Regions from separate parts of the Homo sapiens genome. Here region 2 is linked to region 1. Evidence: fine-mapped expression QTL. A gene starts in region 1. The other region holds a variant in brackets. All regions are shown on one strand. Distances are from middle to middle.

The links.
Region 2: its variant is fine-mapped to the expression of LINC02529 in tibial nerve (GTEx, PIP above 0.99).

What each region holds. Positions count from the first base shown.
Region 1 is chr6:159,373,410-159,389,695 of GRCh38, forward strand. LINC02529 (long intergenic non-protein coding RNA 2529) reads left to right here and starts at 10,122. Exons shown (of 3, transcript NR_125873.1): 1 at 10,122-10,368. It overlaps LOC105378084 (a long non-coding RNA gene), which reads right to left and starts at 9,918. Exons shown (of 3, transcript XR_943176.1): 1 at 9,605-9,918; 2 at 2,333-2,465; 3 at 1,922-2,139.
Region 2 is chr6:159,428,746-159,445,031 of GRCh38, forward strand. No RefSeq gene overlaps it. Among named protein-coding and RNA genes, the nearest start is that of LINC02529, 53 kb to the left of the region's middle. The variant T/C (reference allele first, on the strand shown) is at 7,885.

The DNA.
Region 1 (16,286 bases):
CAACCAAGTGAAAACACATTGAGAAATTAGGCCTTGCTCTAATCAGACAGAGGTAAGTTGAGAAGTATAGAGTGGTGGGAGGTAGCAGTTTCCTGGATGACAAAGTTCCTGGGCTCTCTCTGGGCTTCTGTGGTGGTGAGACTTGCCTAGAATTGCCACCATTCACAAGCAAGTATCTAAGGCCACCTCTGGTCCCAGGAGCACAGGCCAAAGGGAAAGTGCCAGAATGGGTTGGCCTGTGTTCACGCCCATGTTCGGTCCTGAGTTCTGTCTGAATCAGTGATCCCAATAAGCGGGCCGCATGGGGGCATGGCTGTCCTCCAAAGACTTCAGTCATTAAAGTTGTATGGTGTTCCCTTAAATCATCCAGTTACTCACTCACTTTGAATTGATTATGCATTAATTACTCTAAGTCTTGAGTAGACGCATACCTTGAACAGATGCATACACCATGTCTAATTCCTCCTCTGGACACATGAGGGCTCCAAGATCCTGGTTCCACTTGGGATATGATATCTCCAAACCCAGACCTGGACATGGGTGGAGGTAGGGGACCGGGAGCAGTACTTGATCACTGGATGCAATGAAGCAGCCAGTGGGAGTCAACATGCCCTGCATAAGCTAAACAAAAAGACAGGCACACGGTCTAACTGCGTTCCTGATCAAACGAGGAGGGCAGGAAAGCCGTGCTCAGGTAGGAGGCAATGGGAGAGAGACTCAGGAAGAGTGAGGTGGTTCTGAGCAAAGAGTGAGAGAGACAGTCTTGAGAAATAAAGAATTCACAAGCAACTTCTCAAATAAACAGCCTTTTGTAGCCTCATCAACATGTGACTACAGAATAAACTGCACTTCCTTTTAATGTCATGGTTATACAATGAAGTCCCCTAGCGTTACAATGGCCAGTAATAGCATATAGCACCCTCTGATTACATCTCCCTAGACAATTTTTTTAACATGTCTTAAAACATGCTACAAGATACTATTATACTTGTATTAGTTATCTGCTTCTGTAATCACAAGATAGTGATTTAAAACACACATTTACTATTTCATAGTTGCTGTGAGTCAGGAATCCACGCACACCTTACTTGGGAGCCTTGTCTTCAGGGTCTGTCACAGGCTGCAATCTGGTTATCAGCCAGGGCCAAGGTGTCTGGGAAAGGCTCGACTGAGTGAGGGTCCACACAGCTCAAGTGGCTGTGGGCAGGATTCAGGTCCTTGCCACATGGGACTCTCCACCATGGCTTCTTGAGACCAAGTGGAGAAGGCAGGAGAGATTGCTGGCAAGACAGCAGTCACAGTCTTGTATATCCTCATCATGGAAGTGACATGCCACCACCTTTGCCACATCCTGTTGGTTAGGAGCAAGTCACAGGTTCACACTCAAGGGGAGGGCATAGCACAGCCGTGAATGCCAAGGTGGGTTCATCCAAGCCATTTCACAAGCTGCCTACTGTGCTGGGCTGCCAGGATAAACCCCTACATCTCCTGCTTCCCTGCCTTACCCTCATTGCTGCCTTGATGCCACCTTGGCTGCAGTGACCCTAGGGACGTCCCCACACTTGTGCCTGGAGCTCCCAGAGCCCGTGACAGATTGGGCTCTGCCCGAAACACACTTCACCAAGAGCCTCTGAGTTTAGGAAAGCACACCTCGCAGCATAGCTGCGGCTGCTCCCGAAGGGCCTTCTCCTGGGGTCCACACGCAGCCCCAGCCTGGCCCCAGGGTTGCTCTCCCAGGAGCTCCTACCTGCATCCTAGCCCACACCCTCGTGGAGCTGCTCACAGTCCAGCCGCTCTCCCTGCCCCTTCCCCTCCCGCTCAGGTCTTCCCTTCCTGACCTCCCTGCCCTGCCCCGGGGCTGAGCTTTTCCTCAATGGCTAAGGCTGGGAACATCCCTCCCACGCCCACCCGGCGTGCGTGATTGGTGGTCACTGAGGATCACCGTCCTCCAAACGCGACGATGCAAGACGCTCTGGAATCACCCGTCCTCAGTCCCCCAGTCCTACGGTTCACCGAGGATGTCATGGCCCCAGGGGGTGTGGTGATGTTCAGCGCCTTTTGGTATTCTATTCTTTCCTCCAGAGTCGTGGGGAGGACACCAGCCAGATGTCCCTGCGGGTCTCCTCAGCTCCTGAGCTCCTGGGAGTGAGAAGAAGTTTCCTGGCATGGGCAGCCTAATTCCAGGAGGGAACGGTCCTGGGAAATGCCCAGTCCACACCATGGGACACGGCGCCTCGGCCCGAAGCTTCATTATTTGGGTGATTTCGCTGCATGCAAGGTTTGGCCATCCCCCCGGGACCAAAGGGAGATTGGAAGATATCCTCATACCTACCTCAGAAGGCAAAACCTCTTTAGGGCTTAAAATGTCTGCCTTTCCAGCTTCAAAATAATGCGAAGTCACATCAGGCGCCTTCTGCAGGCCCGGAGCGCAGGGAGGGGCAGTCAGGAGGCCTGGTTCTGTTGTCCTGTTGAAGAGCAGATGCTGTTGATGTGCTTTTTGTGAGATAAAGCAGCCCTGCAACATGCTTAGGTTCCCTTTATTTCTTCCGAACTTCATGAGGCACTTTCTCCTGCTGTTCCAGGATGGAGTGAAGGCGCCTAGCAGCCACCGTGCACCTGGCTCCAAGCTCAGTCAACACTTCAACCGGCCATCACCATCCCTGCTGGGGAGGAGGGCAGAAGCCACGGTGGGGGCAGGTGCATGTGTCTCCCTGTGGGTCACAGCAGTCCTCCTCCCCGAGATGCTGACATCTCCCACCCATGCTGAGACCCCGGCATTAGGGAGGAAGATGTGTGTGATGGGTGCAGAGGTGACAGCACCTGACCCAAGCCTGCCCCCACTTCCCATCGCCCCACAGTGCACAAGGCAATTTCCAGGTTGCCTTCTGTGGCGTGTGTCACTTGGGTGGGGGCAGGACGGGTAGAAAGATGAAGAGGAGGCAGGGATTCTGGTCTGAGGTCTGCCTGATGGAAGGGCCAACACCACTTTTCAGGAGGTCCCCAGCCCTGGCTGTGTGAAAGGCTGAGAAGGCAGAGAATCTTGCTGGTGAAGGGTGGGAGAATAATTTTTCTTGCTTTAGCTTGGTCTGTGAAAAATTAAACAATGTCAGATGAAAACACTGCCAAGCACAAGTTTATGCACTTCAAAGAATTTTTATTTTTTCAATCAGAGGAGACATGAAATCCCAGACTCTAGACTCTCTATTTCAGTTCCAAATTGTCAAAGTGCTGATGTTGCAGTCTTTCCTCGAGTTTGTTTGGAGAAAGCAGCAAACGTATGAAAAGGAAAAACTGTATTTTACCCAAATGAGCTCCCTGAATTTGTAGAGTGTATGATTAAGTGGAGCCTTGTTGGAACAAGAATCATTTTACATTCCTAAAGGGTGATTCTTTGCAACTCTTTGGTCTCAGAACTGGCAAGACCCTGGACGAATGATGGGAAGAAGAATTCAAAAATAATAGAGAATCTGGGGCTTACTGTGGGAAGGATGGCCGGCGGGCACTGCATGGATGCTGGCTGACTCTGTTAGCCCCCATGACACCGGCGTGGATCAGGGTCATGCCTTAGGCAGGCAGCCCTGCCCTGGGGGATCCTAGAGGACAGACCCGGGGTGGTAGATCCCACTCATCCCCAGCCGGGTGCCCTGTGCAGAGAACAAATGCAAAGCTCTCCTGAGGTCCCTGCATCTCCCTGTTATTAAACTTCCTGTCTGCATATCCACCAAGCACTCCCTGGCATGTGGACTGCTAACATGAAATTCCTTCCTTCCACAAGCACTAAACTAGAACCTCTAGGGGCTGGTCAGCGTCTCTAGGGAATTATGGGGGAAATAGATATGCAAACGACGGCACCTGGAGAGGAAAGGGTACCCTGAGGCACCTTCCAGAGGGACGTCTCTAGATCCTAGCTCAAGGAGCTGCAGGGGAGGGCAGCATGGGTGTCAAAACCGAGTTTGGAAGGGTGACCAGGAGTTTGCCAGTAGACAAGGAAAGGAAGGCATTCCAGGCAGAGCAGGAGCCTAGCACAGGCAAAGCAGGAGCAACACGCTTTAGGCAACACCATTAGAAAGTCTGTGTGTTTTGGAAAGTCCTCGGCATGTAACACTCTTCATACTTTTATTTCTAAGTGGCTTTTCTTGGGAAATAAAAAAGACTCTAGTGATGTGTAATTGCTGTGTAGGCCTCTTAAAACTCAAGGAAACATTCAATGAATAATTTTGCTGGGGTCAAAGAGAAAAAACCAGAACCAAAAAAAAAAAAAAAGAAAAAAGAAAATTAACGGAAGTAATGGCACTGAGCCTGTCCTCAGGGCACTTCCGGTCTAATGAAGAACAGCTGTGAGAACACACCACATGCTGCTGTTTGTGGCCTGTTCTAGGAGTATGGTCAGGGAGGCGAGGTGCCCCAGAACCCTGGAGAAGCAGGGGAGGCTCCCTGGGGACCAGCAGAGGCCAGGCTTGAAATGGCTCCTAAAGAAAGTGTGGGAGTGGTCAGGGAAACCTCTGTGGGTGGGGTAGATTCAGACGGAGGGCTCCTTGGTGTCTGAGGTATGGCAGGTGTGGGTGAGCACAGGTGGGAAGGAGGATGGGAAGGGGAAGGGACAGAGGTCAGGGAAGAGGTGACGAAGGTGAGATTAGGAGGGTAGCCAGCCAGGCATTGAGGGTGGAGGAGCCAAACCAATGCGTTGGATTTTATGCTATGTCAGTGGAGGGCCAATGAAGGATTTAGTCTGAGGAGTAGCAATAGCGGCTTTAAAAAACAGTGTGCATTGCTCTTTTCTTGAGTATAAAGTAATGCATGCTCATTGAAGAAAACATGGAGCATGTAGAAAGCACTAAGAAGAAAGTTAAAATGCAGAAAATTTAAGATAAATAAGAACTCACAATCCCATTATCTGAAAGAATGATAAGCACATCAAACTGTGAGCATTTGGTCTTTTTCCTCCTGTCTTCCAGAGATACCATAGTTGACATTGTTGGCAGAGGATGAGAAGAGAGACCACTGAGAGACCGCCCTACCAGTCAAGGTGAAAGGTGGAGCTGGGGCAGGAGTTCAAACATAGAATTTTCAGCAGGTTACCAAGTAGTCATGGTTTGGCTGAAGGTCTGCTGACTTTCTTCCCAGTGAAGAAAATGACATTAATATGCAGTGTTATCTGAGAAATTCAAAAATATTGTGAAACTGTGCTCAACAGCCAGAAGCTATTACTCATCTTTTCATTGGTTTCCTTTTCATAATGTTTAAAATATTAGCCTAAAGAAGGGAGAGCACAGAATTAAGTGGTAAGAAATCTACGGATCATGAAAATCGTTAATGGCCTTGAGGGACTGTATTGCTTTCTTATTCCTGGAGACGGGGAGTTTTAATCTCTCATCCCTGTCCTCGTCTCACGCGACCCTGGTGATTTCAGAATTACAACATGTTTTGACCCCCAGAACTCTCTACAGTGCTGGAAGGAAAGGATTCTTGAAATGAGCCAGAGCTGGTTTAGGAGAAAACCGAGACCCTGAGAGGTAATGAGATGTGACCAGGGGTCCCAGACCAGCTGGAAGAGAGAAGGGGGCGAACCTCAGCCTCACAACCTCCAGGTTCATCCCTTGTCTCTCTCATCATGACATCAATCCCACATCTCCTATTGATGCCCCACAAATTTATTTGCAGTAGGTAGAAACATGCCTACTCATGATTACTTAACTATCACAGGAATTAAAGGCGAGGCTAATACTGCAAATCACTTCAGTATGCTGTGCTTGGCTTCAGAAAAACCCAATGTACAGAAACAACTATAAGTCATTTTTTGCAAGACTTAGTTTTACAAAAACTATTTGTTGGAAGTAATCATTCTCATTTTAAGAGAGAAAGAGAGGGAAAGAGGGACAAATGTACTGCCAGAGGAAAGCTATTTTATCTACCTCTTTACTTACTTTTTATTTGAGAAAATTTCAAGCACACACCAAGCAAAAGAGAATAGTCTAATGAGCCCTCACGCACCCTTTGTCCAATGGCTATCAACATTGTGCCAATCCTGACTTTAGAGAGCTTTTAAAATACAGTTTAATCCACAAAGATTGTATTTACAATCAGCTTTTCATGTTCAAATCTACTATGTAAAGAAAGATGTTTTAATTTATTTCCTGATCTGAATGGACAGGAAGATTATATTTCTCAGTTGGTTCTTCACGGGTTTGTCTGTTCTCAGGGGACTCTGAGCACACATTCCAAGCCACAGATGGAGAGAGCACCTGGTCCTCCCTAGATGCCACTCCTGACAGCCCTGAGATGCTGAATAGGCTGCCACTGTCTGGAGTCATGTGCAGGATGGGGAGAGCAATGGGCTGCAGCCAGGAATGCCAAGATGTAGCCTTGGCTTTGCTGCTGAGGTGACCTGTGCAATCTGCTGGTCATTGGTGCTCCTGATGGGTCTCTCCAGGGACTTTAATTCTTTCACTCACAGACCATGAGTAACTGAGTCTGATGAGTGCCGCTGGTTTCCTGGAGAGGCGATTACTGATGACAGTGTACCCTGCTGTGCTGGGTGTGGGCACTGTGTGTCACCACCATCACCTGTTCTGGGATTGCCACAATGCGCATCACTACCTAGCGTGTTTGTTTGTCACTTTGTTTATTCTGTTTCGTTTATTGTCCAACTCTTCCAACCAAACACATATTCCTTGGATGTGGGAGATGCATCTTTCTTGTTTACCATTGAATCTCTATGAAAATCCACACCTCAGTTAGCTCACTGTCTGGTGGACCAGGTGGGATGCCGCTTACAAAAACACCCAGTGCACTCAGCTGCAGGGTGTTTTTATGGTGTTGCTGTAGCTGGCTCTTGACTTGCTAAGCCTTGTGCTTTCCAGATGTTTACCCAAAAGCATAACTGGGAGAGGAGTCCAGCCATCAGCTTCCCTCTCTTCCAGTTGGCAAGCTCTTCTAGGGCTTTCACTGAATCCTTGGACTTCCTGAGCTGTCCCACCCCACAGGAGACCTGGAGTCACTGCATGTCTCACAGACAGCCAATTAGTATTTATTCAGGAAGTGCCTTTGCTATTTAGAGTTTATAATATATCCCCCAGTTCCACAAGGAAGCCTGTGTATTTGGGGAAGGTACCGATGGCGGATTCTATCTTCCAAAGGTGGCTGAACCAATGCATTTTCCATCCCACATACTCTTAATATTATTGGACTCATCTCCAAAGAAAGGTGGTATCTACATTCCCTCCCCTTGAGCCAGAGAAGTCCTTTATAACTGACTTAGCCAGTGGAGCTCAGTGGACTCAATGCTGCAAGCCTACCAAAGCTGGGCAGGGAAAGGCACACAGCTCTTCCAGGCTCTCTCTCTTTCTCTGGAGGGTCACCATGTTGTGAGGAAGCCCAGGCCACATCAAGAACTCACATGTCAGTGTTCTGACTCAAGGCCTCAGGCCCAACCAGCAGCCAGCATCAACTAGCAGATATGAGAGTGATGACCCCCCCCAAGGATTTCAACACGCTGCCTTTGAGTCTTCCCTCGAAGACCCCAGAAGTCATGGGGCAGAGACATGCCACTCCTGCTGTTCCCTACCTGGATTCCTGACTCTCAGACACCGTGAGAAATAATAAAAGATGACTGTTGTTTAAGCTTCTGCATTTTGGGTCATTCGCTATGCAGTAACAATTAATACACAGACTTCTTGAGACTCTCTTTTCACTCACCGTAAGAAACACTGGCGATGAGTGGCTGGCCATCTAGTTAGAAGAGGGGTCTAGGGAATTTGCATTGCAGCTATGCTTGTGTACCAAGCATTACTGGAGAGAGGTCACCATGGAGATGCTACTACTTGGCATCTTGATGCCTGTGCAAACATTTCTGCAATTTACTAATCCCATACATGTTATTTAGTAGCCCTTCCATAACTTTGTAAAGGTGCAATACAAAGCTCTTTGAGTTATCCCTAACAATAGTTAAATAAGCTACCACCTGGAAAAATTGGCATATTCTTGAATCCACAATATTACTGGAGTTCCCTAATGGATAGAAGTGGACCCACCCCATCCCCATTCCTATCCTCACACACTGAACCTCAGATTGTGTAAATGATAGAAAGGATGCCAGCTTCTTCTTTAGAAGTTCAAGTCATTTTGGGGACTGGCTTCAAAACAACAAACAATCCTGTTTTTGGAGCCCAACGCTGTCATGATCTCCAACATTTTGTGTTAACGTTGTGCCTCTGGAATAAAACAGGAGGGGCAAGCAGGACGTCACAATAGCAGTGAAGACTCTTCTGAGAAGAAAGGGCTTCACAGAATGAGTTCTGTGGGTGCCTGCAAGTCTCCTTGCTTGTTGAGCAGCTGCAGGGCACAGGGAAGCGCCATCTGGGTATTCACCAAGTTTTGTAAACAAACGGCCTTCCACGCACTGGCAGGACACACTCCGCAGCAGATCTTGAAAGCTCGCTCCCCTGGAGACTTTCCCTAGGAAAGTGACGAGACTTTTCCAAAGGAGTTAAACTTAATGAAAAATGGGTTAGGAACGAAACAGCTTTGAAGAGGGATAGAAAGAATGGAGCAGTGTGTTATTTAGAAAGCTTTCTTCCTCAAGGACCGCCTTGCTTGCCCTATGATTCTCGTAGCTTCTCCTGCCACATTTTCCCCCACCACCCCCACCACCCCTCAAGCCCAGGAGCTGTGTTATTTCTGGTCCACCTTTGAATGAACTGGGATAAAAATACCTGGCTTTGCAAGTGTCACACTGATCTGCCGATGTAAGTACAGTAGATCAAAGAGAAAGATAGGGTTACGCACTTTCTAGGAAACGTTTGAAAACTTGCCATTGTTCCTGAAAATTTCGGGACTGCTTTCAATGTGTGAAAATGAAGAGGGAAAGTTTAGAGCTTCAGAAAAAATAAAAGGTAAATTTAGGGCTGGAGGGTGAAGTATTTGCCTTTGTAGTATTTTTATATTTAAATGATTATAGTGATCTTGCTCAGTAGGCTTGTTTCTCTATGATAAAGTTGTGGATTTTGTTATTTTAAAAAAGGAAGATAACTCCATTTTATTTGGGGGAGAACATAGGTGTTATTATAAGAATCCTTGTGATTTACCTAACTGGATATTAGGGACTGCAAAGCAGAAAATAAGATAATTATGATATGCTGGTGTTGCATCTCACCTGCGTTTAATCTGATCACTAACTTTAGAACCGAAGCCCTTCCCCTACCAGAAACTATAACTCTACAAAACCATTGCCAAGGGATGAGAATGATACCATTCAGCGGAACTACAAACAAGAAAGTCAAACTGGAAAACCAGAAAACAGATGGCTAAACTCTTTTCTAAACTTTTCCAAGAGCAGTGTTTATGCAGGTATGTATTTCTGATTAATCAAAATATAGATTTGAATCCAGTTAACATGTTTTGAGCACGGCATCTGTGCCAAGACCTTTAAACACACACACACACACACACACACACACACGCACACACACACACAACAACAACAACACCACAAACAGACAAGAAGGCATTATAAAGTTTTAGATATTAAGATAGGATGGATTAAACACCACAGGTAAGGGGACCCCTCACTCTAAATTCACCTTTAAAGATTTGGAAATTATCTTACCAGTAGAAGATCATCATTCCTTGTAGCACATCAGCTCCTGCTGAGCAGCGACCCTAACCTTGGAAGAGGACAGCTGTGGCTTGGTTTACCCCGCAGTGGTAGCTCTGTATTCAGAGCACAGTCATGTATTCAGAAGCACTCAAAAGAAAAAGAAGCAGAGGCCACCAGCTAAACCACTCATGGCCTCCTCAAACAATGACACTGAAAAGCCATGTGCCCCTTGGACTTGCCACATCATTGGCCTGGCTTGTGTAGCAGCAGGAGGCCAGAGTTAGGAAGACTTCATTTCTCCTGCCACTTCATCCCTTCATGCAAATAACCTGTGCAGCCTGTTTTCTTCCTGTGTTCTATTAACTAGGATATGAGGTAGAAATATGTCACAATCATGGGAAACATACAAAACTTGATGACTGAAATGTGCTTGTCTGTGAAGTGCCACCTATGCCTTCAAAGTGATAAAGATCCAGACTGAGTTGAAAAGAATGATAAAGACAGAGCTGAGAGGGCCACAGTTTTAGTGACAGCCTCAGCTGTGACAAAGGAGAGAAAACAGAAAGACCTGGGAAAGTGCAAGGATGAAGCAATTAAGTTTGAGAAATGTGATGTGAGGTTTAGGAAAGGTGGATTTTAGCCCCAGCAGACTTTTAGCTGGACACGGACCTAATACCTTGAGACTTCATTGTTCCCATTAAAGAAAAAATTATCTTCTGACTTTCTAGGGGTTTGGGGGTCCCAGATATCAAAAGATTTAAACCACTTAGGAGGTAAGTTCTAAGTTCTCTATGGAACTGCAATTATTATTTTTGATATTTTTGTTATATTATAATGCATAAACCTGGGACTGGCTACATACTTTGCAGAGTTCAGGAGAAAATGAAAAGGAGGGATTGCATGTACAAAATTATTAAGACTCACAGGCTGGTAACAGCAAGACCCTTCTGATCAGGAGGTTCTGCATGAATGCACTGGTCACCAGGCCATGAAGCGAGCTCTGCATAAACCAGCATCAGAAAAAAAAAAAAAAGAATTTTTTTCTGATGCTTGGTAGTCAAATACAGCTGATTGTATCAGAATGCGAGCAACACAGGGAAGATTGAGGATAAGCCCAACAAGGGCAGGTATTTTTGTTGTTTGGGTCACTATTTTACAGGAGTACAGGCTGCCCAGTTAAACATGAATTTCAGATAAACAGCAAAGAGGATGGCGAGGAGTAAGAAAAAACAAAACAAAAAAATTCTTGCTTCAGGATGGATCATTGTTTCCATAATCATTTTCAAGGATGCATACATAAATATATAATATTCTTAAACACTTTTGGAGACAAAATCTAATTAATTTATAGATAAATGTATCAACCATAGAGAGAGAATTGCTATATCACACTCTGGGACGGCTGTTTGCATTCAATTGTGCTTTTAATTTCTTATTTATTTATGCTCCCAAACAACTGATTATTTGATTAAATTGATTTTATTTCTTCAAAGATTTTTGAACCTTCAGTCTAAAAAGACTAAAAGCTTAATGGTTAAAGGAAAATGTATCTAACCTGGTGAGAAATTAGACACTGGGCATACTCTTCTCTATTTTACTTTTTCTCTTTCCGCTTCTGTATATTTTTCCTTGCTTTTTCTTCTTTCCTCTTTCCTATCTTCCTTCCACCCTGCACAAAGCCACCTGTCTTTTACCATGTGTATAGTACAGGTAAACTTTGAGTACTAACTGCAGCCAGCATTAGGCATCTAAACATCACATATCATGTGATCAAACTCAATTATTCAGAATGCTGTCCTTATTTTAACAGAGATATTACAACAGCCTTAAATACTAGCCTACTATTAATATTACTGAGGTGTATTAGTCTGTTATCACACTGCTATAAAGACAAACCTGTGACTGGATAACTTATAAAGAAAAGAGGTTTAATTAGCTCACAGTTCTGCAGGACGCACAAGCTTCTGCTTCTGGGGAGGCCTCAGGAAACTTACAATCATTGCAGAAATCAAAGGGGAAGTAGTTACATTTTCACATGGCCAGCAAGAGAGAGAGAGCGAAGAGGGAAGTGTTACACACTTTCAAACAAGCAGATCTTGTGAAAACTCACTCACTGTCACAAGAACAATAAGGGGGAAGTCCACCACCATAATCCAATCACCTCCCACCAGGCCCCTCATCCAACATTGAGGATTATGATTCTACGTGAGATTTGGGTGAGGACCCAGAGCCAAACCATATCATGAGGAAACACTGGCCTTAGCCAGAGTGGGTATAAGAGAGAATATACAAAGGCGTATGCATGAATACATAAGCATGTTTTTGTGAATGTCACTTTATTTAAGCTCAATTCTTTGGAGTCAAAGAAAACTCCATACACTGAATTCCCTCCTGAAAGTGGCCATTGTGGAGGATTCATGATGAATTCAAGTACGTTTGAAATCCTAGAGTTCTTCAGGACAAGTAAATAAACAGAAGTAAAGATCACCTCCGTTATGTAGGTGAGATTTTGGTTCTGCCCCAGGATGGCACAGAGCAAAGCTGTCCATACAGAGGTTCTGCATGACCCTCTGCAGTTGCTTCTGGGCTGTCTCATTCACAATCCTACCATTGGCCTGCTGGTAAAAAATCATTTGTAGAGAGGGACATTCCCCCCCTACCCCACCACCAAATACTAACTAACCTTGTAAGGCTTCTCCAGCATGTGGGGTTGCCAGATAAAATACAAGCTGCCCAGTTAAATGTGAATTTCAGATAAACAGCAAAAAAAAAATTTAGTATGGATATCTCCCAAATACTGTATGGAACATATACTAAAAAGTTATTTGTGTTCATCCGAAGTTCAAATTTAACCTGGCATTCTTTTTTTTTTTTCTTGCTACATCTGGCACTCCTTGGAGCATGGAATTTAGCAGAGCATGCTTTGAGTATTATCTGGGCTTTACTGAGCTTCTGTTCACACCCTTACAGCAAATGTACCCCAGAGTATAAAGAATATCGAAGGTCAGTTGGATCCCACTGGAGGAACTAAAGCAGTCACATTGACCAGCAGAAACGAAAATGGCGTGCCACTGTGTTAGGAGGTTGTGGGTCAGGGGCGCCCTGGGCAGTGGTGTCTTGGGGCCTGTGGACACTGTAGGGAGTTCTATGAAAGCTGTGTGAAAGCTCAGACCCACATAGGTGGGTCTGAGAGAGACGCTGTGTGTGCTGTTTGTTGTCTTCTCCAGTTAGAGGAGGCAACGGAGTATGGCAGAACTGTCTTCGTCATTAGTTTTCACTGGGATGTTTCTGCTTTGGCAAAATACTCATCAAATATCTGAGTCCGCAAAACGCATGGCTTGCCGGGAGAAGGAAACTTTGGGGCTGCTCCCAAGCCAGTGCTTGGGAGAAAACATCCCAAATAGGGGTGAACACAGGCTCATGAGCAGAAGGCTTTGGCCTCCATGGGGATATCAGGAAATTCAAGGTCCATTATCCTTTTTCCCTCTGGTAGAAGCACATGCCCATTGGCAGAAAAGACTGTGAAGTTTGGAGCAAGCTCATCTTTTTTCACATAGTAAAAGGGAGATTTAACTCAATGACTAATTTTATTTATTTAAGAGACACATAGCGTTTCTTATCTGCCAGGCGTTGTTCTAAATGCTTGGCAAGCATCAACTCACTAAATCTTTTAATAAACTGGGAGATAGGTTTTATCATTGACCCCATTTTACAGAAAAAGAAACTGAGGCAGAGAGAGATTAAATAACTTGCCCAAGGTTACACAGGTAGGAATCATCCCGGGCTATCTTTTAACTACCTTGCTAGAGTTCAAGGAGGGCTTGTTCCCACAATCAAGCAAGCATTCAGGTTTTTGTGATGACGATAAGAGGATGAAGATGTATGATGAGGCACATAGCTCCGTGCTAGCTCTGGAAGGGTCAAAGATACATGACCGCTGGCTGGCACATCATAGGCACTCTAGAATTACAGTTATTGCTGTTAGGCCTGGAAACCCTTATTGTGGGTGCCAGACCAGTGCAAGCTGCTAGGGACACATAGAAGAAAAAGTCCTTATCTCTGTTGCAGAAGTTGACAGGTATGAATCATATTTTCCTCCCAAACAGGACAATCAAGTAAGAGTGATGCAGTTAGCTGTGGTGAAGCAACTGGCCAAATAGTCCCTGAAATGCTCAGAAAAGACCACTAGTGATCTTCTAACTTCTAGCCTTTCTCCAAGCTGATTATCTGTTATCTGTATTTCCTAAAGATGTGCCTGGTGGCCACATTGTATACCCAAATATTCACTTATGTGATAAATCCACCAACATTGGCCACGTTAAACAATACCCAGGGATTGGGTATCCCTGAGATTTAAAAACAAGTTTTATTATTATTTGTTGCTGTATTTCCTGACATCTTAATAAAACAGATTTATGAAACAAGAGACATTAAGATTTGGGGTAATTGAACCTTTTGCTGATATTTATAAAATCAGAGGATCTCAGGGATGGCAAATACCTCCAAGTTGTTCTGGCTCAGCAGTCCACTGGGTTCTGAATTGTCCTCTATCTCATTCTTGCTAACTTCCAAGAATCCCATTAAGAGCCCAGATGCATACGCAGTGATTGTTTAAACTAGTTATAATGCTACTATATCAGGCAGTTATGATTTATGTTATGAACTTCAGCTTCACAGTCTATACTATATCTTATCCAGAAAACTCTGAATGCATTAAAAAAACCCATAGATTGTACATTGAAAGTTGATTACATTTTCTTGAAATACATATACTTCCCTAGCTAGAGGTTTGTCATTTTAAAAAAATCTGTTCAAAGAACCAACTTTTGGTTTGACTGATTTTCTCCATTGTTTTTCTATTCTTTAGTTTACTAATTTTCACTCTAATCTTTATGATTCTTTGCTTCTGCTTGCTGTTTTAGTTTGGTGCTCTTTTTCCAGCATCTTAAGGTGGGAGGTTAGGTTTTTAGTTTGAGATATTTCTTCTTTATTATTATGGGAATGTACAGCTATATATTTTCCTCTAAGCACTGCTTTGATTTCATCCCACAAATTTTGGTGTGTTGTGTCTTCATTTTCATTCATTTTAAAGTACTTTCTAATTTCCCTTTGACTCATAGTTTTCTTCTTTGACTCATAGGTTATTTAAGATATGTTGTTTTATTGTTACACCTTTGTGAATCCCCCAAACATCTTTCTGTTGTTATTGATTCTTAATTTTTTTCATTATGGTCATAAAAAAGAATTTGCATTAATCATTTTTAATTTAATGAAGGCTGTTTATGGTATCTTATATGGTCAATCCTTAAGAAGGTTCCATGTGCACTTGAAAAAAAAAGCCTATTCTATTGTTACTGGGTGGAGTTTTCCATAGATGTCTGCTAGGTCTACCTGGAGTTGGTTTATATGTTGATCACGTCTATTTCCTTGTTTGTCTTCTGCCTACTTGTTTCATTCATTACAGAAAGTTAGTATGAAAGCTTCAAACTATTATTGTTGAATTTTCTATTTCTCCCTGATATGGTTTGGCTTTGTTCCCACCCAAATCTCATCTTGAATTGTAGCTCCCATAATTCCCATGTGTTTTGGGAGGGACCCAGTGGGAAATAATTGAATCATGGGGGTGGTTTCCCCCATACTCTTTGAGTGGTAGTAAATAAGTCTCATGAGATCTGATGGTTTTATAATGGATTTCCTCTTTCACTTGGCTCTCATTGCGACTCTTGCCTGCCCCGATGTAAGATGTGCCTTTGCTCCTCCCTTGCCTTCCATCATGATTTTGAAGCCTGCCCAGCAGCATAGAAACATGAGTCCATCAAATTTTTTTTCTTTATAAATTACCCTGTCTCAGGTATGTCTTTATCAGCAGTGTGAGAACAGACTAATATATCCCCTCAATTCTGTTTGTTTTCACTGCATGGGATTTTGGAGTTCCAATTGTTAAGTACATATATGTTTTAAATTGTTATTTTCTCTAGATGAATTGACCCTTTTATCATTATAAAAGATTCCTCTCTATTTCTAGTAACTTTTTGGTTTGTTTTGAAGTCTGTTTTGTTTGATATTATAAAGTCACTACAAGGTTGCTGTTTGCATGGTATATCTTTTTCCATTCGTTTACTTCCAACCTATTTATATCTTTTGATCTCAAATGTGTCTCTTGTTGACAGCATGTAGTTGGATTTTGTATCTTTATCCAGTCTGATGATTTCAGCCTCTTGATTTGATTGTTATCCAATCAAATCTAACATTTAGTGTTATATTGATAGAGTTGTGTTTACATCTGATAGTTTGCTTTTTGTTTTCTGTCTCATGTTCTTTTTGTTCCTCTGCTCCTCCATTATTGATTTCTTTTGTATACATAAATTTCTTTCACTATGCTTTTTACTTATTTTCTAGTAGTTACTCTAAGGGTTTACCATATATGTCTTAATTTATCAGAATTTACTTCAGACCTATACTAACTTAATTCCGGTGAGATATAGAAACATTACTCCTATATAGCTCTGTTAACCCCACATCTGGTCTCTTTCACAGGCACATTTGGTTACCTGCTTTTGATCCTGTGTAGATTATGCTTTTTCTGTTTCTTTGCCTCACAACTTTTTGTTGATAACCGAACATAAAATTTTATGGTAGCGCTGGATACCAATACCCTCTCTGAGCCTTGTTGTTTTTGTTTGCTTGTTTA
Region 2 (16,286 bases), 55 kb after region 1:
TTGAGACTCACAAAGATGTATGCAAAGGTAACATTCATTAAGGTAACAATAACTAACTTTTTTTTTTTAGTATGTGCTGGATATGGACTAAGTGCTTTACATGAATCATTTCATTTAACCCTCAGTAAACTTCAACATACGTTATGCTTCCCATTTTACAGATGTAAAACTGAGACTTGGAGAGGCTTAGGGACTGCCCAAGGTTACACACCTAGCTGGTGATCCACCAATTCCTAATATCATTAACTAAAATTTAGTGATCCAGGTGCTAATCATCTGGTATTATCATTTTTTATGTGAGTAGCACACACCAGTAGTTTGCATAAAACAGAGACAGTAAAATAGGCCAATGTTACAATTTTCTATGAAAGGCACAAAGGTAATATAGCATGAGGCTTCTATCTACCAAAAATTCATAAACCATTTGTTTATGAACAAGACTCACAATTGCAGTAGACCCTTGAACGACACAGAGCTTACAGGCATGCAGTCAAAAATCCATGTACAACTTCTGACTCTGCAAAAACTTTACTAATAGTCTATTGTTGACTGGAAGCCTTACTGATGACAAAAACAGTCAATTCACATGTATTTTGTATGTTATATGTATTACATTCTTTATTCTTACCATAAAGTAAGCCAGAGAAAAGAAAATATTATTAAGAAAATCATAAGGAAGAGAAACTTTATTTACTATTCATTAAGTGGAAAAAAGTGGATCATCATCAAGGACTTCATCTTAGTCTTCTTCATGTTGAGTAGGCTGAGGAAGAGGAGGGGTTGGTCTTGCTGTCTCAAGAGTGGCAGGAAAGATGGAAAAAAATCTGCATATAAGTGGACCCGTGTAGTTCAAACCCATGTTGTTCAAGGGTCAACTGTGATTAAACTGAGTTACAATTCAAGTTAATGTATAATCTTCACTGAACTCATAGCCTATTTTATCAAAGCTAAGAATCTTGTCATAAAAAGACCAACACAAGAAAACACCACCTCTCAATACTCAAATGTTCCTCTTGATGAAGTCACTGTGGCTATTGCACTGAAGTTTCTATCTGAACGTATCAATCTGCAGAATTCTTGGGGGTGGGTGTGGTATGCAGAGAAGAAGCAAGGGCCAGAAGTCAGGGAAGAAACATGAAGAGCGCCTGGCTGGTCCCAACTTCCCTCTGGTCACACTCCCTCACCCTTTGCCGCCTCATCCCTGCTACCTATCCTTGTTGAGGAAGAAGAGATGGGAGAGAAGAGAGTAGAAAGAGAGAAGGAAGTGAAAAGAGTGTTAAAGAAAGACATAAAGAAAATGGAAAGGAACTTCAAAGGGTCTTTGCATTGTTCTGAAGGTGAGAAGGTAAAATTAAACCTCCAAAAGAAAACTTTGCACTGTTAACAACAACAAGTTTTATAATACTTGCTTTCCTTGAAGAAAAGAAAATAGGCAGAGGGAAATGAGTGGATATTTCAAGGAATGTTATATAATGTCATAATGTAATGAGGGTTTGTGTGCTCTATGATGCTATGACAATTTGCAAGATTAATCCATTCAGTCTCCCATTTTTCCAGGCAGGGATTCTCATCAGGAATTCTCATCAGGGATCTGTTGAACTTAGAGGAATCTAGAAACCTGAAAGTTTTGCAAATTATTAGTTTCCGTAATTTTTCTGGGGAATGGTTCTGAAGCTTCCAGCAGCATCTCAATGGCATTTCCCAATTCTGCAAAGATTAAGAACTGCAGATTAAGGCAGATAGATTCCAGAAACTTTCGCTTTAAAGTTCTGACTTGGCAGGCAATTGGGAATCTTTCCACAGAGTGCTTTCCTCAAAAGGATAAAATAGTGACTTTATCAGACTTTCCAGTAGCCCCAATATTGCATCAAGCCCTTTCCAGGCAAGAATCCATATCCTCTTATCATTTCTCTTATGATCGGGTTTAAAGTTTTCTCACCCTCCACCAGTTGCTTCTAAGTATGCCCTGACCTGTCAATTTCTCCTTAATGCATGGCACCATAAAGTGAGCACTGCAATCCAGGATGAGTCGACCCATGAGGAAGCAGGCACTGCCCACCTTATTTTGAACACTTTGTTTCTGTTATAAAACCAAAGATCCCAAGAAGTTTTTTGAAAGATGCGTAATCCTTTTGTCTGGCAGGGATTTTTGACAAGTAAATTTCCTAAATCTTTCCTCATGTGTTACCTCTGAACTCAGTCACTTTCGACTTATCTCATATGTATACACTTGAGTGTTAGAAGACTAAAGAGCAGGATTTTATATTTATCTCTTTTAAATTTTATCTTGTCTAATTCAGTAAATGTTTAGCAAAGTGCATCAAAGTATTCTGGAAGCTCAATTTCTCATCCAACGTTAATAGTTGTCCCTCCCAGCCTCGTGCCACTCATGGGTTTATTTATCATGATCTCAAAGGCCTATCCAAGTCTCTGGTTTCCATATGGACAGGAGCAGGAGACCAAAGACTAGCAGCTCCTCCTATCTGATGCTGATTTAGGTTGATCAATGAATCAATGCTCTTTAGCTTTAAAGCATTCAACCAATTGTCAATTCAGCAGATTAAAATGAAATTCAGCCCATATTTCTCCATCTTGGCAATTTGAATATCAGGCAATTTTTTAAGAAACTTGCTGAAACCTAGATACTCTTCTTATGCATAGCATTCTTAGATATTTTCCACTCTACCTCATGACAACTATTGCAGAGAGACAGATTTTGGCTTAACAAAGCTGCTTGGGGCTGGAATACACCTGCTTCAGGTGGTGAGGTCTGTCATTGAAGGTTGAAAACATCTGGCTGGAATAAAATAGGAAATAAATAGGAATAAAATAGGAAAGATTTGGGTATCAAACAAGAGATTGAATTCTGTATCTGTATAGTGACTTGAGACTCTGAACATTTTTGACTATAAATGATGCTTCATGGGTGTTGAGTAAGTCAAATGGTAGCTTCGGGTAAGATTTGATTCAAGGATCAATGATGTCATCATGATCCCTTTCTGTTCTTCTTTTGTGTGCCAGAGTGGTTCTCAGGCTGTCTCCCCTTACTGTAGTCAGTTGGCTACAGCACCTTACTGAGCCCAGAGGAGAGGAGAATGTCTATAGTCTAGCATGCCTTGCAAACATATTAAGACTTGCACTGATTTAGACTGGATTAGGTCATGTGTCTATCCTGCAACAATCACTGTGGCCACAGAGATGAGACATGCTGTTCTGGTTATCTATTGCAACATAACAAATCACTTATCTCCCATGGTTTCTGTGGGTTAGGAATTTGAGTAAGCTCAGCTAGGTGACTTTTCCTGGGGCCCCTCATGGATTTGCAGTCAGATGGTGGTTGGGGCTAGAACAGTGGTGGGGAAGAGGAGTCGATGGTGCTAGGAGCTACCTGGCCATCTTTTTTTCCTTAAGGCAGTCTTGAGGCCTCTCTATGTGGTCTCTCCAATTGTGCCAGTTTGGGCTTCCCCACAATATGGAGGCCTCCGGGCCATGAGACTGCTTGCATACAGTGTCCCAGGAGAATAAGGTGTAAGTTTTTGGCATTTCTGTGGTCTAAACTCAGAAATCACATAATGTCTCTTCTGCCCTACTCTATTGGTTGAAACAGTCACAAAAACCCACCCATATTCAAAGGTAGGGTACATAGACTCTATCTCTTGATGGAAGAGGGGCAAGATTCTAGAAGAAACTTCTAGAAGAACAGTCATCCTTGGAAAATATAATCTTTCACATATGCTAATGGGCTTAATCCAATCAAAACGTGGCCCTAAGCTAAAAGCCCAAAAACAATATCCCAAAGTAAGCCTGGTTGATTGGGCATGGTGGCTCACACCTGTAATCCCAGCATTTTGGGAGGCTGAGGCAGGAGGATCGCTTGAGCCCAGGAGTTCAGGACTAGCCTGGGCAATATACTGAGACCCCATCTTTTTAAAAATTTTTAAAAAATATATCAAAGTAATCCAGGCTGTTATAGATGGGAGAAGAGGGGTGTAGATGGCAGAGAACAATCCCTCCTTCTATGTGAATGGGGACCAAAGCACAGGTGCAGAGGGATGAGGTCACTGTATTCTACCTACTTTAATTTTTTAATACAGATTTCTAAAACTACTTTATCATATGACAGATTTTGCCAAGAACTTATATTTACAACCAAAACTAAACACAACAGTGTTTGATTTTTTAAAAAGAAAACATTAAGTTACACATCATTAACTTAGATCTGCCAATGGAGAATCCATCTTGATGCATTAGGCTGAGTTTTCTTTGTGCTGGTTATAAACCGATTAATGGTATTAACAAAGGTGGGGGATCAAGGAACTATTTTAAGGGGATGAACAACTAGCTTTAATGTTGCTGAAGAGAAAAGGTGCTAATTATAAATATTTCTGAGAATCTGTTCATTAAACACTTTTGAGATTACAAAAGTTATTTCTTGTCTGCATTCTGTTATAAAAGTTTTAAATTCAAGTAAGAATTCAGTAAATACAGATAAAATGTGTACAGAATAAGGCTTATTTCTTTAAAAATAGTCAATAAATCAATATTTTTGTGGTTTTGTCAAAGTGACATTGACTTACTCCTAATTAGGATCAGGCTTTATATATTGTTTTTAATTGGGAGAAATATGTACCAAAATAAATATGAGATTTATTATTATAAATTCATATTTAAAAGGTAAAAAACTGCTGTGTGTCTGTGGCATTGCTGTTTTAAAGATTTCCTTGCATCCCCCCAAGAATGGCAGATAGTGTAATTACAGTATTCCTGCTGTGAACTTTTCTTTGTTTTCTAAATACAGTAAGTGTATCCGAAAACTTATTAAAATGAAATCCCCCTACCCTCTCACTCTTCGTGACTGTCAGCTTCCGATAAGCCCATACTGATGGTACTGATGGCGGCCAATTGCCCCTTGGCATTTGCTTTATTATAATTGCCCAATGGGTTCATCCTGCCTGCTGCACAGATAAAACCAATCTTCTGAGACAGCAGTATTACAGTAGAGAAAGAGTTTAATTATCACAGGACTAGCCAAGTGGCAAATGGGAGTTTATGACTCAAATCAGTCTCCCTGAGAATTCAGAGGCTAGGGTTTCTCAAGGCAGGGGACTAGGGAATGGGGAATGCTGATTGGTTGGGTTAGGGATAAAATCATAGCTGTCTTCTTACACTCTGTCAGTTCCTGGGTGGGATTGCAAGGTCAGATGAGCCAGTTTCATGGTATGGGGTACCAGTCCAGGTGGCACCAGCTTGTTCATTGGAATGCAGTCTGAAAAATACCTCAAGTACCAATCTTAGATTTTGCAATGGTGATGTCACCTATAGGAGCAAATGGGGAAGTTACAAAGCTTGTGACCTCTGGCTACAAGGCTCCTGAACCATAATTCTAATCTTGTGGCTAATTTGTTAGTCTTGCAAAGACATATTTGGTCCCTGAGCCAGGACGTAGTTAGTTTCAAGAAGAGACTGTTATCATCTTTGCTTTAAAGTTAAACTAAATTCCTCCCACAGTTGGCTTGGCCTATGCCCAGAAACAAACAAGGACAGCTTGGAGGTTAGAAGCAAGGTGGAGTCAGGTCGGATTTCTTTCATTGTCATAATTTTTCTATGTCAGATTTTTCTCACTGTCATAGTCTTTGCAAAAGCAGTTTCATTGAACTCCATTCTGCTCATGGAACAGTAGCTGCCAAGACTGGAGCTGGGGTGTTAAATGCGTGGAAAGACACTCAGCCTATGCCTCCCTCTACCCGCCAACACCCACAGCCTGCCTGTCAACAGCCCCATGCTCAATCATCCTAGGAATCTGCTCTACTGCTCTACTGTTTGGCGGTGGCTCTAGATTACTGAAGCTTTCTTCTCTCAAATGCTTGCTGTGCCAACAGTGTGTTTAACAAGGAACAGCTAAGACATTGAGTGTTCAAACAATGGTCAATTGTTGGGTCTGTATGAATTCAAGCAGCAGACTTGCCTGATTGCTTCATTTTTCTTTTTACCAGTTTGACTAACACCGCCTATTATTTTAACATTAGGTAGACTTTTTTAGTCACAAAAACCTACTCTCCATTTTTTAATGCCTTGCTAGATATACTTATTGTTGAATGTATGGTTTCTCTGCCTGTTAGCAGTGTTTTACCAGCTTTTGCCAACACAGCTTGTGCCCTATCTGCAGAGGACAAAGAAATGCAGAGGCCTAGAGAACAAGTCCATGCTCTCCCGTTCCCTGTTCAATGTCACAAGAGAGGCGCTCCCACACACCCTGTTGCACTGGAATGGACACAGAACCCTCAAGCTGTCAACAGTGACTTCCCACCCTGGGACCCCCTTCCCTCTCCCCTCTTCTGGCCTCCCCAGTCACTTCCAAGTTCCCATTTCTTCCACTTCTTCCAAATAATGCCTGCCCATCTTCACAGTGAGCACCTGGACACCACACTCACCTTCTCACCAGAAGTGCGAGTATCTCAGAGAGCGTTTCAAGGCAAGCCAAGGGGCAGAGCAACAGTGACTCTGGTGGCTAGTCCAAAGGCAGTGGAAAGTGGCCACTTCCCTGGGAGCCATAAGAAGGACCTTACAGTCTCACTTGGGCCCCATGAAGCTCTGGAGTATCATTCAAGGACTCCACATTTAGATTCTCCAAATGGCCAGAAATGTGCTGATTAACAGTTCACGAGGAACCACGTGGGTGCCGTAGGGTGCTGAAGGTTGCATGGCTGCGAGAAGATGTTCAAATATACCTGATAGGTGCTTCCTGCCCCATCCCACAGTATTAACCACGTGTTTCTGAAATTTTGACACCTAGATCCTCACTGACACTGGAGGGACTGCTCCCCCCAGGGCTAGTCAAGTCCTAGAGACAGCAAATGACTCCCCCATGAGTGTGCCCTTCATGTGCAAACCACACAGTCCAGAGCCCACATGCAGACCCTGTCTCCTCTAGCAGGCTCTGCCATGCTGGGCCTCTATTCCCCTGCCGTAATCACCCCAGGGCCAGGTGCCAGACAACTGGAAACAGCCCCTATGCCCCAGACCCAACAGAAATTATTCACACTAGCCGGTCCTAAGCCTGCTCATCCTATCTCCCCAGTTTCTTCCCTCGGAAACCTCGGCCGAGGCTCTTGCCTGTGTTTCCTCTAGCTTCTCTGCCACCTGCCCAACCCTGGTGCTTCCGCATGGGGCCCTGAGCATCATAGTGTGACCCTCCTCTCGGGAACTGAGTGACAATGGCAATCGTCTCATCTGTTGGCTTCACCGCACCTGAAAACCTACAATTTACACCACCAACCCCACTTTCTGCCAGAAAAATCTGTCCTAACCAGCTCCTCTGGCTGGGTTTATACATATTCTTATCACAGCTGCCAAGATCATGGTCACCAACAGGTCTTATCTGTGCAAAGGGGATAATGATAGAGCGAGGATGGTATGAAGAGCACGCTAGGCACACGCAGTGAGCTCTCAGCCCGGGTCTGGCGCTGGGAGGTGCTTGGTGCATCTCAGCTCTGATTACGATGATGACAAACTGTGCACCTCAAGGCCTCCAGGTCACCTCTGAGTGCCAGACACTTCCCATTCCAGCCCCTGTGCATTATCCTGAGCAATGCTTGTCTGCCTGTTAACACCAGCTCTGCAGATGAGAAGCCTCTCAAAACCCTTCCCCTGCACACCTCAGCAGGAGCAGCTGCTGCAGCGACACTGGGAACCCTCGAGTCTGAAGCCGGTGGGGAAGGGGCTCAGAATCTGCTTACCTGAGAGCTCAGGGAGCCTCCAGAGAGATGATTCACCTCACCTGGAGAGAGACAGCCAGAAAGGGCTGCTTACCCAGCAGCCGCTCCTCTGCCGTGCAGGAGAAACAGCAATTCTTTCCCTTAGATTTGTCTCTGGCCCAGAACCACC[T/C]CCATCTGATTCCTGAGGAGAGACGGAGGTGGGAACGGGGGTTTAGGGGTTATGGTTGAAGCTGAATGAGCTTCTTTCTCTTAAAACTCCAAACATCAACATTCAAGGCAGTACAGCTGACGGAACACAAAAGAACATCAACAAATATTGGACTCCAGTTAATGACATGTGTGGGAACAAAGGCACTGATGTTTGCAGCTGACTTTGAAAAGTCTAAAAACAATAAGCTGGATGGATGGGTAGCTGCACAGATATGTGGAAAGGAAAGAGAGCTGACGGCCAACAGCTGCGATGTATCTAGATGTGGCTATGTGAACCACCGTATAATTCTTTACATTCTTCTGTATGTGTAAAATATTGGGGACAAAAGGGACCAGAGACATCTTCCTTCTTCAGCATGGAAGGCAGAGTGGCCCTAGTATCCCGGGCATTCCAGGCCTCCGCAGCAGGAATGGAGGCAGATGGCAGCCAAGCAGCTGGGGAGCCGGGCAGTGGCAGGGGCACCTGGCAAAAGGGGCTTCGCTGCGGAGCACCCGAATCAGTGCAGGGCATCTTGGAGAGCTTCACAGGAGGGGAGCCCCCACTGCCGAGCAAAAGAGGGAGAAAATGTTGGGGCCACACAGTGCAGGGTGGACTTGCTCAAGAGCCCCCTGGAGACCCATCCCAGGACTTATCTGAAGACACTTTGCAGATGTCTTGACCCCTGCATTAAGAGACCCAGTGGAACACTGGTTATAGCTAGAAATGCACATATTTCCCAAAATTACTCTACAGATTTGTTTCCATCAGGAAATTTCAAATCCTCAAGTATAATTATATTTGACTTTTTTGAGATGAATCTTCTTTTTGTAAAGTATCACTTCCTCTGGAACAGCAGGGTTATTATTTAACAAGTTTAGCAAAAAACAAACAAAAAAAAACATTTCAAATAGAACGTAATCAAAGTTCTCTCCCTGATCCATCCCAATTGTATACTTCATCTTTTCAATGATGAATTGGATTCCTGTCTATGAAGCCCAGAATCCATTAAACTCCCCAAACTGGGTCTTAGTCACAGCACAACTGAGAAGCCATGTTTCAAACATGGAAGTGAGAATGAAGGACTTGACTTGCCAAATTACTGCCACACAAGCCCGATTTTCTCTACTAGCGGAGGCAGACCAATGGGAAGTGAACACCGAGGTCCATTTGTGAGTGAGCTCCCAATCCATGAGCAAAATAGTTTTGAAAACTTTAGGGAAACATTTGAATATTTTCCAGATATTAAGGACTCTTCCAACTTCTTTATTCAAATCCAAGTATGAATGACTCAAAAACATTAATTGAATCTTCCCACATGGACCAAGTTTTTTAATGAACATAAAAAAGTATGACTGATTGACATGCAAAAACTAGATGCAAAGATACAGAAGACTAATTTCTTACATCTCTCATGGACAAGATACTTATATCTTAATTACTTTGATTCTGTTCATTTGTAATAGGTCTCCTAAACTATTCACCAGCCAGCAATTTCTTATTTTGCAAATGCTGTCAGCCATCACTGGGGCTGGGTGGTATCAATAGGACAGAATGGTGGAGGGAACTCAACCGACACACAGGTTCTTTCCAGCTGGGTGTGCAGGATCAGGCTGATGCAGGTTGTGCTCTCAACTTTCACATAAATCACTGCAGAGGTGGCTGGGGCTCAGAGACCAGACAGACACATGGTGAGAGGAAATGCAAAGGAGATGTCGGCAAACAGGACAGCATCCTGAGCACCTGGCAATAGAAAGTGCCAGCTGGTAGGGACAGGGGCTCCCAGAGGCCAGGCAGGAACATGCTCAAGGGAACATGACAAGGATTCCTGCAGAGATTGAGTCACAAAGACCCAGCAGAGCACAGTCGCTCTGTGCTCAGAGTAGGAAGCTGAAAGCGGTCCTGAGTTAACATCATGAAATCCCCCCTTGGGAGACAGAACCAGCCTCAGAGGCTGGGGGCAAGGCTGACCCTAGTGGTAACCCATGGTGGGGTCACAAAGGCTATGACAGGAGCCTGTGCATCAGATATTGTATTAGTCTGTTCTCATACTACTGTAAAGAAATACCTGAAACTGGGTAATTTATAAAGAAAAGAGGTCAAATTGGCTCACGATTCTGCAGGCTGTACAGGAAGCATGACTGGGGAGGCCTTGGGAAACTTTCAGTAATGGCAGAAGGGAAGCAGCACATCTTACATGGCTGGAGCAGAAGAAAGAGAGCTAAGGGGGAAGTGCTACACACATTTAAACAACTAGATCTCTTGAGAACTCACTCACTATCATGAGAACAGCAAGAAGGAACTCTGCCTCCATGATCCAATCACCTCCCATCAGGCCCCTCCTCCAACACTGGGGATTACACTTTAACATGAGACTTGGGCAGGGACACAAATCCAAACCATATCAGATACCAAGTCAAAGCTTTGGGGAAACAGGGGATCAAGTATGACCCTATCCGAACAGGAGTGTCCTGAAAACAGTATGTGTAGTTGTTTAAAATTAATTCTCTTAAAATTCAGCATGAAATGAGGTTAAATGAATAACTGTGGCTTACCGTAAAGAAGAAATGCTAGCAGGTTGGAGCTCACAAACTTCACCCCATGCCACATTTCAGTGGGCTGAGCACAGTGTAGGCCCTTGGTGTTTGCTGGTTAGTTCTGAAGCAGGCTTCTCCAGGAGCAGAGTCAGTGGTCAACATCCATGATGAGAAATGAGGCACTAATTATCTCACTAATGGTGAGACTCTGTCACCCTCACCCCACCCTCCCCTCAATCCAACATCAGTTTGGCATCGATGTTCAAACTCTCACAATTAAAGATTAATTCCTTTGACTTTAAGCTTTATCCGCTATTGCAATACTAACTACTGTAACGTTAGTAATGGTCCTTTACCACTGAGTAGACATGAATCCCTAAAAGCCTTCCTTGAGAACATTTTGATCGAGGAAAAGAAGCAGAGAGTGTAAAAATATTAGGAAACTGGTATGGCACCAAGAGGCATGTGTGCTACAGAGAAAGTCCCAGGGAGGGGGCCCAGGAGGCAGGATTCACCACCTCATGTTTTATCTAAGACCTTCTTTACTGGATATCTCACTTGATTTAAGAACAGAGCTAATGAACTCATACAGAGCATGAAAAAAGGTTCTTTTCCAGCACATTCACTTCTTTTTCCCCTTAACCCAGGCCAGAAACAATTTAAAAGATTTTGGCAAGAAATGAATGACTGTGCATAGCCAACCATCTCCCCTGGAAGGATAACTCAAAGGACAGTGCCTGCTGAGGGGTGTCAGGGTCTCAACTTCAAAGCCGAGTTGAGCCAGATGGGAGGGGCTGCCTCAGTATCCCTGAGGGGTCAATAGGGGAGCTGACCCTGCAGGGTACTGCCTGGGGTCACAGAACCCAGGATCTATGGCTGGACTTGAAAGCAGAATTGACTTTTGAGGCTAGGTAAAACTGAACTTTAGTCCAAGAAAGAGATGAATGTTGGGTCTGGGGAATGGAGCAAACGTCAAGAAGAGAGGCAGATAAATCGCACTGGTGCAGAAATAATGAAAGCAGGCATTCATCAAACACCCACTGAGGCCTGGGCTCAGCGAGCTACCCACCAGGCAGTCTTCAAAGTGCCTTAGGTATATCATTTATTTGAAGTCTCAAACAACTCCAGGAGGTGTTAACTACTGCTATCTTGATTTTATGGATAAGAAAGCTGAGGCTGAGAAGCTAAATGATTTAGTCAATTTGTTAGTAAAATTGCTAGTTAGTAAAAAGTTGAGATAGTGTTCCAAGCTAGGAGTAAAAGGTTTTATATAAATGAGAACGCACGATTTATTACTCTCTGAAAACTTCCTCTAGTGGCTGTTAGGAAAATATTATCAAAGGATTATGATTCCTTCTTTTCCAGAGAACTCTTGCTCTGAAGCCAACCTGTAAGGCGTCTCATTTGAGCCTGCAAATCTGGAAAAATCCTATTCTGGGTAATCCATTCACAGAAAACATCAAGGAACCAAAGCTTCTTATGTATGGACCTTAGATTTCCCCAACACCAGTGGGCAGTGCAGGGGTACATTCATGGCAGAGGCGGCCACAACTCCCATCCCCACTCCTCGGAGCTCTGGCCTCCAAGGGAAAAACACCTTTTGCTTGTGTGTGAAGTTTAGAAAGAGGTTAGTTTCTGAGTCCCACTGACCCCCAAAACTGGTTTCTTCTGAGACCCTAGGCATCAGGTTAATGTTATCAAACCTATGGAGAAAAAAGAATATAGATTTTGAGAGAAAAGTAGATAAATGTTCCGTTCATCCATTACTTAAAAAACAAAACAAAACACTACTGTACCTTGAAGAACTGCACATCCACTTTGTGTCTGGCATTTGCATTTTCACATTTCATTAGGGATGACTTGGCAGGAAGCAACCCACTCCTACGCACACAGGCTTGAGCAAATGGGGCACAAGGGAATCTCTCAGAACCAAAGGCAGGAAATTGAGTTGGGACACTCTCTCCATTCCCAGTCTCTGGCTGCAGTCAGGCAGCCTCTCTAGGCTTCTCTCTGCACACCTGCTCTATGGACCCCCTTGATGTCCACTCAGAGTTCCAACTCCCTCTTAGCTTCCGTTCCCGTGTGACTTTGGCTCATTGGGGTTCTGACACTGGCCTCGGCTCTACATGATCTGAAAAATCCAAGGCTCAACTACCTGACTTCAATTTCTGGGCTTCTTCATTTATAATCTCAAGAGTGAGTTAAACACGCTCACATGAGCCATTGGGGTCAGGCAGCTACTTCTGGTCCCCTCAGCTAAGGAAGAGTAGGGAGATAAAACTACTTAATATATTCTCCACCACCTAAGACCAGCCCTGCAACTGGGCTATGGGCAATTCCAAGTGGGAGGTGTGGCTGGCAAGTTTCTACAAGTGGGAGCTGTGGCTGGCAAGGTTCTAATTCTATTAGGTGGGCATTATTATTCTCATTTTGCATATGAGGCGAGAGGCTAAAAAAAATGTATTCACCATCACAGTATTAGTAGGTGTAGAAATGGAGTTTGAATTTAGGTTGGTTTGTATCTGTGACCTATTGCAGTGTAATAAACTCGCCCAATACTTGGTGGCTTAAAGTGAAACCCGCCCCATTTACTTGCAGTTCTGTGGGTTGGCTGGGCAGGGCTCGGCGAGGATGCTCAGCCCAGTTTCATGCATGTTGCACGTGTTCTCTCCTCTGGAAGACCCCAGATGGCCTCTCTCAGATGTCTGCCCTCCGCAGAGCCTCTCTCTACTCATGGTCTTTCATCTTCCAAGGCTTCTCTTTGCTTGTGGAGGCTCATTCTTAGGGTCCCTCTTTCTTGACATGGTTTCTCCAGCCAGCCCAGTCTGGAGGGGAAGGGCAATGAACTCTACCTGTGGATAGGAGTAGAGACAAAGTCACATGTCAAAAGGGCATCGGGACTGGCCAGGATTGTAGCAGCCATCTTGGGAAACAACCTCCACAGAATCCAAACCCATGCCTGTTATGCAATGCCAACACCCCCAAGGGCCTTCTGAGATCTTTGGAACGTCTTCCAAAGGCGGCCTGAATCCCAGACTACAACTCAGGGCTGAACATGACCTCTTTGACCAGCTTGGTGTCCTCTTTGAGCCGGCACTAAGTTAAACCAGGGGAATACACAAGTGAGTCAGGCACGGCCCCTGCCTTCCCAGAGATGTAGTCTCCTGAGAGAAGGACTCGATGCAGACAAGTTAGATCAGGCTCAATCCCCTCTGGAGGACAAGAACTTTCAATGCAGGAAGCATAAAGATTGCCAATTAGTCTGAGTCTATGAAGTACCTTCTTTTTCTTGGCAATGTGTTAGACTGCGCTACTCAAAGACCTTAGAAATAAACCTTTAAACTAGGTAGTTGCTAAATTCATAAGTTTTTAAAATGTAACATGATGTTTTTTAAGAAAAAAACATACCATCTCTACCTCATAAGCTGGAAACTCAGCCAGAAACAGAGGAGAGGGGTAGACAGCAGGCACAGACAGATGGGGATGCGTGCTCCTTCTATCAATGGCAGATGCCAAAAAGCCAAACACAAGGAAACCCAGGAGGAACCCACTGTGCTTTGACAGTGTCAGGTGGTAGGAGCCAGTCCCAGGGAGGGCAAAGTTCCCAGGGTGCTCACCCTGCTGAGCCTAGATCCTGTCATTGACGACAGCAAAGAGACGTTGACACTCATGCATCTCAGCAAGGCCATGGCTCGGTGCCTCCTCCATCCTTCTCAGACCTGATCTGAGATGGGTCTATCATTTATTTTAATTCTCAAACAACTCCAGGAGGTGTTAACTCCCTGCAGTCCACCATGGGGCCCCAGCATGTGACATTTTTCTGCCCTTGGATAAGCCTGCTTGTCCTTGAAAGCCTGGCTGCTTTCCTCAACCTGCCCGCTACTTTGCCAAGGTGAACCCAAGACTCACCTCCAGCTTGCTATTTATCCCCCATCCATTACTGAGGGCCTCCCATGAGCCATGCATAGAGCTACTCCAGAGGCACTAAAATACCAAGGTATTTCACTCCGGAAGCCCACAGCCTAGCAGCAAGGACAGAAATATACATTTTTATGTGGAAACCAAAGAATATCTAAAAGCTTGCCATTTAGCAACCAGTCATTTCTTGTTTCATTTACAATTTTTGGACTTGATTTTTTTTTTCTGTTTATGTGTGTGCACACACTGTGTTTTCAGAGGTTTTTGTAGGTGGTAAATCATACTGGGAGGTTCAGGAGCCGTGTCACTTGCAGAGGTGTCACTTGCAGAGGTGTCTGAGGGGCTGATCTTCGTGCTGCAGCCAAAAATACCGTAAATAAATAATAAGCCCCACCAGATGTTAGAAACCAGGCTGGGAGGTGTGACGAGACTTCATAGCCACTGGGGTTTGAAGATCTTATCTGATGCTGATGGCTTTTGCCAAAGGGCTCCATCATTTGCAAGGAGGGGTGGGGATACTTTATATGAGGAATCTGGCTTTGCCGAAGCTTTCCAGGTCTAATTACACAGCTCCGGCTGTGTTTAAGGGAGGGGATCCTGGGAAGGAAGCTAGGCATAGGGTGAATCATTCTTGAGCTCTGAATCGGATTCCTATAAGGGCAACCTGCTACTGCCGTAGCTGCACAAACATGCCTCTCACCTGAACGAATCCTAATTTGATATTTTATTCCTAAAAGAATAAACTAGGAGCCAGTATTTTCTTGTGTGTGATTGACCTGAGAAAATGCATTTTCTCCAATGTGCCTTTCATTCTTTCCATGCTGCTCTGTCACCTTCCTCCTTCTCCCCTAATTCCCTTTCTCTTCACTCACCCTCTAGGTTTTATCTGCCCCTTTCTATCCTGGGTTATCCTCAAAATAGAAATGTACTCTCTTACGGGTAACACAGGAAGGTATTTCTTCATGCAACTTCGGACCCTGTGGGTACTGGGTCTCTTCCTCAAAGTTTTAGAATTGGATAAAGGGCTTCCCTTGTACTGAAAGCAGCTTGAGCCAGAGTATAGAATATTCTTCCTAGGGTATTTTCTAGCACCAAAGTCAGTGGCCCCTCCTGGGAGACTCAGGTTGCAAGTCTGAGTAATGAACACGGATTCCATGGAAGTCACGCCACTCCCACTGAGGACATTCCTGGCCCAGCCTCCTGATGGGAAAACGCTCTTCCATCGGCAAATGACCAGACAGCCAGGAGAGCTGGTAAATCTTAGGGAATTCAAAATTATTTGACTTTTTTTTTAAAGGCTACCCAAAATAGCCTCAACGTTTCCTCCTCTAGTTCTTTGCAGTCATTGTTATTGATGATGCACAGATGATTAACTTTATCTGTAAAGCATTAAAGAGATATTCATGGGGTGAAATCAGTGTATAGTGCATTTCACAGACACACACACCACAATCCCCAAGTGAAACCAGGAAATCCCTCACAGCTGTTCAAATAAAAGGTCATACAAATATAAGCTTATTCCAGAGCCATAGGCACGAGTTCGGGACTCTTAAGACAAGTCCCCAAAATGCTCTTCTCCAGCCACCTTCAATCCTCTGGGACTAGGAAGTGGTATCCAGGCTGAACCCCACTGCCTCTGGTAGCAGAGTCCCTTTAAACCCTGCCCAGGGGGAGCCCTTCTGAGCCTCTTGTTTCTGTGTCAGAGAGAAGTCATGGGAAATATTGACCCTTGGGGACCAGAAGAGGTTTCTTATCTAAAATCCTTCACAGTTCTCAGGCTGTGGCTGACTGTGGGGTCTGAACCTTGTGCTCAGAGGATGATGTAAATACCTATGCCCAGAAACAGCACAGCCCCTGGATGGCATTGTTGATGGATTCACCTGGAGTCCTTACAGTGACTCCTACCTGGAAGCGGAAGTGGAAGGAGCA